Homo sapiens: one gene and its partners. The protein of the gene in region 1 purifies or fractionates together with the protein of each later gene. This does not show direct contact. Each region holds a gene or a part of one and is shown in the gene's direction. Other genes may lie near its edges.

Evidence for each region.
Region 2: the proteins of AHDC1 (region 1) and ADNP purify together in Homo sapiens (affinity purification with mass spectrometry, with the first as the bait; one large-scale study listed by BioGRID). This does not show direct contact.
Region 3: the proteins of AHDC1 (region 1) and IL37 purify together in Homo sapiens (affinity purification with mass spectrometry; one large-scale study listed by BioGRID and IntAct). This does not show direct contact.

The regions. Positions count from the first base shown.
Region 1 is NC_000001.11:27,545,004-27,548,656, reverse strand, and holds part of AHDC1 (transcription factor Gibbin), read left to right. Parts: coding exon 1-1,353; 3' UTR 1,354-1,396; intron 1,397-3,335; exon of another isoform or gene 3,336-3,401; intron 3,402-3,653. UniProt on the Homo sapiens protein: Transcription factor required for the proper patterning of the epidermis, which plays a key role in early epithelial morphogenesis. Directly binds promoter and enhancer regions and acts by maintaining local enhancer-promoter chromatin architecture.
Region 2 is NC_000020.11:50,921,431-50,925,083, reverse strand, and holds part of ADNP (activity-dependent neuroprotector homeobox protein), read left to right. Parts: intron 1-3,653.
Region 3 is NC_000002.12:112,914,145-112,916,906, forward strand, and holds part of IL37 (interleukin-37), read left to right. Parts: intron 1-1,048; coding exon of another isoform or gene 1,049-1,115; intron 1,116-2,762. UniProt on the Homo sapiens protein: Immune regulatory cytokine that acts as a suppressor of innate inflammatory and immune responses involved in curbing excessive inflammation.

The DNA.
Region 1 (3,653 bases):
AAGCAGCAGACGGCTGTGTCGGAGACCTTCTCTGAGTCATCCTCCGACAGCACCCAGTTCAATCAGCCGGTTGGTGGCGGGGGGTTTCGGCGTGCCAACAGCGAGGCCTCAAGTAGTGAGGGCCAGTCGAGCCTGTCCAGCCTGGAGAAACTGATGATGGACTGGAACGAGGCATCATCTGCCCCCGGCTACAACTGGAACCAGAGTGTCCTCTTTCAGAGTAGCTCCAAGCCGGGCCGTGGACGGCGGAAGAAGGTGGACCTGTTCGAGGCCTCACATCTGGGCTTCCCGACATCCGCCTCTGCCGCTGCCTCAGGCTACCCATCCAAACGGAGCACTGGGCCCCGGCAGCCGCGAGGTGGACGGGGCGGTGGGGCCTGCTCAGCCAAGAAGGAGCGGGGTGGCGCAGCGGCCAAAGCCAAGTTCATCCCCAAGCCACAGCCAGTCAACCCACTGTTCCAGGACAGTCCTGACCTCGGCCTGGACTACTATAGCGGGGACAGCAGCATGTCACCACTGCCCTCACAGTCGAGGGCCTTCGGCGTGGGAGAGCGAGACCCCTGTGACTTCATAGGACCCTACTCCATGAACCCGTCCACGCCTTCCGATGGCACCTTTGGCCAAGGCTTCCACTGCGACTCGCCCAGCCTGGGTGCTCCCGAGCTTGATGGCAAGCATTTCCCACCGCTGGCCCACCCACCCACGGTGTTTGACGCCGGCCTGCAGAAGGCATACTCGCCCACCTGCTCGCCTACACTGGGCTTCAAGGAAGAGCTGCGGCCACCGCCCACAAAGCTGGCTGCCTGCGAGCCCCTCAAGCATGGACTCCAGGGGGCCAGCCTGGGCCACGCAGCTGCAGCCCAGGCCCACCTGAGCTGCCGGGACCTGCCGCTGGGCCAGCCCCACTACGATTCCCCCAGCTGCAAGGGCACAGCCTATTGGTACCCTCCAGGCTCAGCTGCCCGCAGCCCGCCCTATGAAGGCAAGGTGGGTACAGGGCTGCTGGCTGACTTCCTGGGCAGGACGGAGGCCGCGTGCCTCAGTGCCCCTCACCTGGCTAGCCCACCAGCCACGCCCAAGGCCGACAAGGAGCCACTGGAAATGGCCCGGCCCCCTGGCCCACCCCGTGGCCCTGCTGCAGCCGCTGCTGGCTATGGCTGCCCACTCCTTAGTGACTTGACCCTGTCCCCCGTGCCGAGGGACTCGCTGCTGCCCCTGCAGGACACCGCCTACAGGTACCCAGGCTTTATGCCCCAGGCGCATCCTGGCCTGGGTGGGGGCCCCAAGAGCGGCTTCCTGGGGCCCATGGCGGAACCTCACCCCGAGGACACATTCACCGTCACATCCCTGTAGTGCCAACTGAAGTGCCGACTGGACCGCGAGGTTTTGTTCCTGGGTGAGTCTGGGGATGTGGGCGCAGTGGGCAGAGGCCTGGGGGTGGGAAGAGGACATCAGAGCTTAGGCAAGGACAGAGGTATGGAGTGCAGGAAGCAAATGCAGGATTTAAGGGCAAGGCTGGGGACTGAGAGCAGGGTGTAGGGATTCAGGATTCGCTGTTGCGGACAGTCTCAGGAGGAGATGGGGTGCTTGGGCTGGGAACTCAGCAGGGGGCTTGAACGTTCGGGGGGGTCTTGTGAATTGAAATGGCCAGAGGACTACACACTGGATGGGGCCCTGTAGTTTGGTTTATTAAGCTTTCAATTATTTGTTCATGCTATGTCTTGGGCAGGAAGTGAGTATTTCCCAGGAAATACGCTGATAAGGGTGGGCATTTGTATCGCCCTGTGTGAGACAGGTGAAGGGAGAAGCAGGTTGGACGGTCGTCTACCCAGGGCCTATCCAGAGGACCAGCCCTGCTGGCACCCCCATTTCCCTGGGAGCTTCACTGATTCTAAGAGGCAGCCTGGTGAGGGCCAGGCCAAGAGTGGCCAGTGTGGCGTGGTCACACACTCTGCAAGGGCTTCACAGGATGGTCCAAAATGTCCTCTCTTGGCCTCCCAAGGTACCCCCAAAGGCTATTTTCCAACATCTTTGGTCTGAGATAGGCTAGGTGTGGCCAGGAGCATGTGGGGTAGGGACCCAGAAGTGGAGAAGGGGTGCTGGGGTCCCACTGTCCCTGCAAACCTGCAGCCAGTGAGGCTATCTTCAGGCAAAGGTATTTTGACCCTAGAAAAGCCAGTCCCTTTCCTGAAGCCAAAGACTTTTCTGAGAGTTCAGTTAAAGAGTGTTAAATGTTTTGATACTGTTTTTATCAGGTACTGTGACCTCATTAGTTGGAGTCAGTTTTAGTATTCTCAAGATTTGGTGTTTTAAAAAAGGAAAATAAAAGACAGAAAATGCCCCCAAAATGATCAAAGGGAACAAGGTTGAAGGAGCCATCTTCTTGAAGAACAGCCTGCTCCCGAAATACAGCCGCCACTGGCCCCACTTTTGGACAACAGATCTGTCACAAAATTGGCCCAGATGTGGTGGTTGGTGATGGGGCAGACTGGGGGCATGCCTGCGTCCCTCACCCTTCACCTCTGCTGCCACTGAAGCTTCCTGGGAGTTTCTCTTCCTGGAGGAGTAGCTGGGCTCCTGGAAAGTCCCATCCGTGCTCTGGGAGGCCATTCAAGGCCAGGGTGACTCAGGGTCCTGAAGTCATGTCAGTGGAAACTTGTTGCCCCCTCTCTGCCAGACCCCAGCTCCCCTGGTGCCTGAAGGTGACAAAGGGCAGCATGCAGGAGTCCGGAGGCCTCCGGGAGGACCATTCCCAGATTGGCCACCAACTTCCCACATGCCCTTGACCAAGCTTTTGCCCCTCTCTGGGCCTCAGTTTCCCCATCTTTTCAAGGAAATTTACTTTGATAATCCCTTAGGCTCTCGCAGCTCTGCATGGCAGAGACAATGAAGCAAACTTTTTTTTTTTTTTTGGCAGCATCTTTTCCTTCCTGATGAAGCCAGGCCAAGATTAAAATGGCCTTCCATTCCCCATGCGTCTCATTGCAACCAGCAGAGCCTCAGATCTGAAGCAGGCCAGGGAGAAACTGCTTAGGGTTTAAAATGTCAAACTCTTGATCCTTCTCACTGGCGGGGAGATGTCTCATGGATAATCCAGAAATGTGAAATAATCCAAAAACCGTTCCTCCCAGGCTCTGGGTGGGAAAATGGACGGGTGTGGGGGCTGGGTGTTTGGGCAGGTCACAGCTCAGTGAAGTACATAATGGAACCACCCAGTGAGGCCTGAACGCAGGAGGAACTGGGATGCCATCCAGCCCCACATTCTGGCCCTGCTCCCCACTCAGGGCTGTGAGTTAACTGCGCTGTCCTCAAACCAATGCATTCCATTGTTCTAGAGACATCTGTCCAGCACCCACTAGAAGCCAGGCATTGGGGGCACCACAGTGAACACCACAAATGAGGTACTGGTCCTCAGGGGGCTTCCCATTTAGAGGGAAAGACAGCAAACAGTGGCATTAAGCATGTGTTGATTCCAGCTGTGGGAAGCACTGTACAAGAGAAAAAAGCTAGAAGCTTGTGAGCGCACACAGCATGCTGACCGGACCTTGAAGCTGAGGCCTGAGGAATGATGGGGCTGAACAGCTGGCGGGGAGGGGGAAGAACATTCTGGGCAGAGGGAACAGCAGTGTGGAAAGCCTGGAGGCAGGAAGGGA
Region 2 (3,653 bases), on another chromosome or scaffold:
TCACTCACAAGCTTTGGTATTATTGATCCCTACCTTGGTTCCAAGACAGCAGCTAGAGAAAGCCTGGAACCTCTCAAGAATTTCAGCAGTGTTCTGGAAATAAAGATTTAGAAAATAAGAGGAAAGCATAGACAACGTTGGATGGAGTTTACAAAGGGAAGCCTGCTCTGAATATATGCCACAGTTTTAGATTTAAGTTAAAGATTTAATTTAAAAGCATACACGTAATCTAAAAGAGTCATGCATTATTTGACCAGCTGTTAGAATTAAAAATGAATCTGCATATCCTAATACCCTCTTCAGTAAGGGTATAGATTTGTAATTGAGTCACTTAGCTGTGGGTTGTGTTTATATGTCACTTCTCATGTGACTGTGATGACTTTAATAAGGATGTGCTGCTTAAGTGTAAAGGCCCCCTTGCTGGCCTTTATGGTATTATAGTATTGGTGGCTTGTCTGTTTTATTTTCCAAGCACTTTATAAACTATTCCCAATTTTCTCAGGACTATCCTTGTTTCACAAGTAGGGAAATCAAGGCACTACCACATACAATGATGAAATGAGCCACAGAGTATGTCTGGGCTGGTTCCCAGGCCTGTGCTTGCAACACAGGCCTTTATGGTGCTCTTGTAAGCTGTTTGGCTAATGGGGGCTCACATGAATGCTTCCCATTTCACAGTGAGGTTTTATGCTTCCATGTGAGCTTAAACCCAAGGATTCCAATGGCGTCTACATGTAAAGAAGCTAGCCACACCCCCAGCAGGGAGAGTATGGGTGTAAATTGTGCAGGTGGCAGTTAATTGGAGTAGCATATTTCTGCTGGGAAGTTAACTGTATAAGAATCTAAAAAGAAACGTTGTTTATGTTCCCTTTTCTTTTCCCAGTTTTTTAGTTTAAGACAGTCAGTCTGTCCTGAGCAGTTACTTTTTTCTTAGATAATTGCTGGCTTTTACCCTTTCTTTTTCTGAATCCTTCATGCTCCATTTAAGAGCTTGTGGAAACCTGTGCTTCAGTTGACAATCTGTAAAGCTCTGCTCTTCTGGTGGAAGCTCATGACCTGAGAACCTTTTGAGTGGTCTCTTTTGAGAAACTCCTGTCTAGTGGAAATATGGTGGAATTTATTAAAATTTTCAATTCGAATTATAAATTTAGGTTGACAGAATCCTTGCTCTTGTGAAAGAAGTGAGCTGAGACTGGGAGTATCCAAATGCAAGAAGTGCTCAGAATCCTGCTTCAAGATCAGTTACACTTAAAAACAGCAACAAGAGGATGGGTGCGGTGGCTTACATCTGTAATCCCAGCACTTTGGGAAGCCAAGGCTGGCGGGTCACCTGAGGTCAGGAGTTCAAGACCAGCCTGGCCAACATGGTGAAACCCCATCTCTACTAAAAATACAAAAGTTATCCTGGTGTGGTGGCACTCACATGTAGTCTCAGCTACTTGGGAGGCTGAGGCAGGAGAATCACTTGAACCTGGGAGGCGGAGGTTGCAGTGAGCCAAGATGGCACCACTGCACTCTAGCCTGGGTGACAGAGTGAGACTCAGTCTCAAAAAAAAATAAAAATAAAAAACAGCAACCAAAAAAAATGCAAATAAAACTTCTCTGAGGAAAGTGTGAAAACTTGAGCCATCAAGTGGCAAAACCTGGTACAAGAACGCTTTTGAAAAGCTACCTTCGGTGAAGCCTTGATCCTGGGAAATGGCTTCGAAAAACTTGAGAACATAGTTTAAATATTCTGTTACTCAAGAATAGTGAAAGAAATATATTTCCTATTGTGGGAAATTATTTCTGAGTAGTTTCGGTAGAGCATAAAAATGTATTATTAGGGGATCAAAATAACGTTTTATGTCATTTAGATACAAAGACTTGGCATGCTTCTGAAATAATTTATAAATGGACATATCTGCGTGTCCTCTTGTGGTGTTGTGATACATACTGGTTTTCATCCACCACGGTTCCTGGCTCATAACACCCATAACCCCATTACCGTGTTTTGTTATAATATAGGGTACGTTAGGTCTCAGAAAATAATCTCTGATCTTCTCCTGCTCTCCTTACACGTGTCCCAAGGCAAGATTCTGATCTTTACCCAGCTTTCTGATTGTAGGTCTTGAGATCCTCTCTAGAGAGAGGGTGTTGGCCCTATACCCCGGGGAAGGGAAGTAAGGTTTCCTATATGAAGCTTTTATAAAAACCCAGGAGGGCCAGGCGCGGTGGCTCACGCCTGTAATCCCAGCATTTTGGGAGGCTGGGGGCGAGCAAATCACAAGTTTAGGAGTTTGAGACCAGCCTGGCCATCGTGGTGAAACCCCATCTCTACTAAAAATACAAAAAAAATTAGCTGGGTTTAGTGGTGGGGGCCTATAATCCCAGCTACTCAGGAGGCTGAGGCTGGAGAATTGCTCAAACCCGGGAGGCAGAGGTTACAGTGAGGCGAGATTGCACCACTGCACTCCAGCCTGGGGGACAGAGTGAGATTCTGTCTTTAAAAAAAAAAAAAAAAAACGCAGGAGGACTGGGTTCAGAGAGCTTCCAGATAGTTGAACACACCTGGAGGGTGGCGCCCCCAGAGAGGGTATGGAAGCCCAGTGCCCTTACGCATTTCTTTATCTGTACTTTTTATAATAAACCGGTAAACATAAGTGTTTCCCCAAGTTTTGTGAGATGCTCCAGCAAATTAATAGAACTCAAGGAGGGGGTCTTGGGAACCCCAGCTTGAAGTGTCAGTCAGAAGTTCTGGAGGCCCAGACTTACAGTTGGAGTCTGAAGAAGGAGAGAGCAGTTTTGGGGACTGAGCCCCCATCTTGTGGAATATGACACTGTATCCAGGTAGACAGTGTCAGAACCAAATTAGAGGATACTCAGCTGGTGTCCGCTGCTTGGGAAAAAACCCTACACGTTTGGTCACAGAAGACAACTTCACGACTTCTGTGTGGTGTGAGGGCAGAGGAAAAACAAAGTTTGAGAGTTTTCCCCTAAAGCACCCCTTAAGGGCTACTTGTGAATTATTTCCCTTTTTCACATTGATCTTAAGCCAGATTGTCCACTTACAGCGACAGCAAGTGGCTGTATGCCTGTGGAGTTCTTATGTAGGCAGTGGAGTGCTAGAATCACTCTTTATGCTGTGTCCCTGCCTTGCTGCAATACCTGTTTAGAGTGAAGTAAACTGGGAAGTGCTCCTCACCTCACACTCTCCCTAAATCTAAATTGGTATATTATAAAGTATCCTCAGTCTGTTTTTCTTGTTTAAGTACCGAGGCATCTTCCCCCGCTTTCAAATACAATTTTAGGTGAACTCTTAAATTGATGAAGGGTCGGGGGGCCAGACCTCTGGCTGCCCAGCTTTCACCTTGTCCCTCAGGCATCATCTTCCCTCTGTTTGTATACATATCTTAAACTCTTAGAGGAGTTCAGCCTGAAAACAACTGGTTCTACTGGTGTACTGGAAATTCTGGTGGTCACTGCTAGAATTCTTGCCTGAAATCTGAATACGGAAAGTATCAGGATAAGCAGCAACACAGTAGCAGTTTTCCAGTTGTGGGCACCAGTCTTGTAGTCTGAAAATCTTCCTAAAAGACCAGTGACTCCACATATTTTTTAAAACTTAAGATACGCAAAATCTAGATGACACCTTTATGTTTCTACATAACTGT
Region 3 (2,762 bases), on another chromosome or scaffold:
CTGGAGACACAGACCTCCTCCCAGCACTGAGGACAAACAGCCATGGGGCCAGTGGGGGTGCAGGGACACCCACACCACTAAGGGCTCAGGGCGGCGCCTTCAGAGCCTGAACCTTCCTCTCATGCTGCCATTTGAACACCACAACACCCTAATAGGAAACTGTTAACATTGCCACTGTTCAGGTGTGGAAACCGAGACAGACAGTGGAGATTCCCTGCCCTAGGTGACACAGGTAATAAGTGACAGATGTGGAAATTTAAAGGTACTATAACGTCTGTCTGCCTGACTCAGGCTTAAGGCTCCCATCACCTCCTCTTCTCAGGACAGAGTCAGGAGGCCTCAGCCTGAGCCCCAGCTCTAGTGCAGGTTCATGTGGGAATACTGAGCCTCACTAGTACAATGGCAGAGAGGACCAAATGGGACCAGGTGTGTAAGGGTGCCTGGCACAGTTGGGGGAGGCTGCTGTCACTTCTCCACCGCTGCTGCTGCAGTTACCTTTGATGTTTTAGTTTTGTTGTAGTTACACCATTGCTGGCTTTGGATCTGCACTGTGTCCACTCCAGGTGGAACCACGCACACAAGCCTCTCTGTCGGGCCTGTCCTGACTTCTCCTTGTCAGGGCTGGGATCTCCTTCAAATCTGGCGGAAGTGGTTCTCCAAGTCTGGTCCTCAAACGTCAGCAGCATCAGCGCCTAGAAGTGTTAGGAATACACATTCCCAGGCCCCACCACAGACCTCCTGCCTCAGAAACTCAGGGCGCTGAGGCTCTAGGGGCTGCTTTAACAAGACTTCCAGGTTATCGTGACGCACCTTGAAAGTCTGAGAGCTACTGCCCTACAGAAAGTTACTAGTGCCCTAAAGCTGGCGCTGGCACTGATGTTACTGCTGCTGTTGGAGTACAACTTCCCTATAGAAAACAACTGCCAGCACCTTAAGACCACTCACACCTTCAGAGTGGCCTTGAGAAAGATTTGGGGTCAAGGATCATGAGCGAGAACACCACTTAAGAGGATAGTGAACTAGTCTGCATGTGAGACGCTGAGATCCTATGTCAGGCTGTGATAGGAGGGAAACAGAAACCAAAGGAAAGAACAGCTTTAAGAAGCGCTTAAGAGGTACAAAGTAAAATGATGGTGCTAGAAAAGTAGCTTCTTAAAAAGAGCATTTTCCAGTCTCACCCTGGACTAACTGAATGAGAATCTCAGGAGTGTGAGGCCCAGGTATCCATGGTCTTAAAATGCCACCCACCAGGTGATTCCCAGTGTGCACCAGGGGTGAGAGTCACAGCCTTAGGCCATGCCACTCAAAGGGTGTCTTCAGACCAGCAGCACCCACAGCTCTGGGAGTGCATCAGAAAGACAGAGGCTTGGCACCACCCACACCTACTGAACCATAGTTTGCAGGTGATTTCTTGCACATTAAAGTGTGGGAAATGGAAAAGCTTAGAGTTCAGCTAGCTCGGTGACTCTCAGTCAACCTGCACCTGCTCCATGAACTCAGACTGCCTGGGATGGGCCCAGAAAAGCTCCTGAGGAGATTCTGATGTAAGGCAGGGCTGATAACCATGGATCTCATCTGACCCCATATCACTGGGGAGTTACTTAGGATCTTGCCTGGGGCCAGTCATCTCTTCCATAGACACTGAGAGTGTCCACGATGCTTGGGGCACTACAGGGTGGGAGGTGGAGGATCACGGGTGAGTCAGATAGGAAGCCTGCTCCTGGGGAGCTTACAGTGCTATAGGGCAGCGAGCCAAGGATGCCAATACCTGTGTGCAGGTACCACTGACGAGTGCAGAGCGCTGCAGCACCAGAGAGGAAGCTACCCTGTGCAGAGGGGGCTGAGGAGGGCTGCAGGGAGATGACAGGAAAGCCGGTGTTACAGGAGGAGTCCTCCCCACTCTTTGGGCATGAGGAGACCAGGAGGACATTCTACAGTGAGAAACCCAGGCAGAGGCCATGTGCTTATGGCATGGGAAAAGAATGACACCTTAGACTTATTCTCTACATTAGAATTGCCTACCACAGATACCCATATTATAGCTTCACATAGTGTGGTGGTTACTGTGTTTTCATATTGTCACATTTGCCATTTTCCAGCCACCCACCCATTCTTGACAGTCACTGGCCCAGCCTGGGGGCCCCTGTTCTTTATCAAACAAGTGCCTGAGCTCTTTGCAGAGGTGAGGGTCACCTGTCCAATCAGAGGCCAGGAGGGAACGTTCCCTTTTAAGACCCTACTCTAGGCAGGCCTGGCCCAAATGAGTTGCTAGGAGCCCACGCCCTAAGAACCCTCTGAGCACTGTTGTGGCTGGTCCTGCTGCTAGAAGTTGTTCCTCCAGGGCCAGGTGCAAGATTTGTGGCTTTTCAAAGGAGCCACTAAAGCTCCAGCTCAGCCTTGCACCGTGCTGGGCTCCTGGGGGCTTCCTGCCTCCAACCCTCCCAACTCTTCCATCACCGCTCCCTTAGCCTGGCCAGTGCAGGGATCTGTTCCACTCTAGGCACTGCTGAGGGAATGATGCCTCCAGTCAGAGGGTGCAAAAAAGAGAGTTAAGAAAAACAATGATTATAAAAAGTCCTTTTTATACGCCAGACATTTTCTTTGCTCAGGCTAAGTGCTACTTATTTGAGTAAGCATTTTAGTTCTCATAACTCCTCTCTCAAGTAGGTGCTGCTATTACTTTCATTTCACAGATGAGGACATTGAGGTTTGGAGAGACTTAGTAACTTGTCCTCTGTCCTACAGCAGAGCTGGGATTTGAA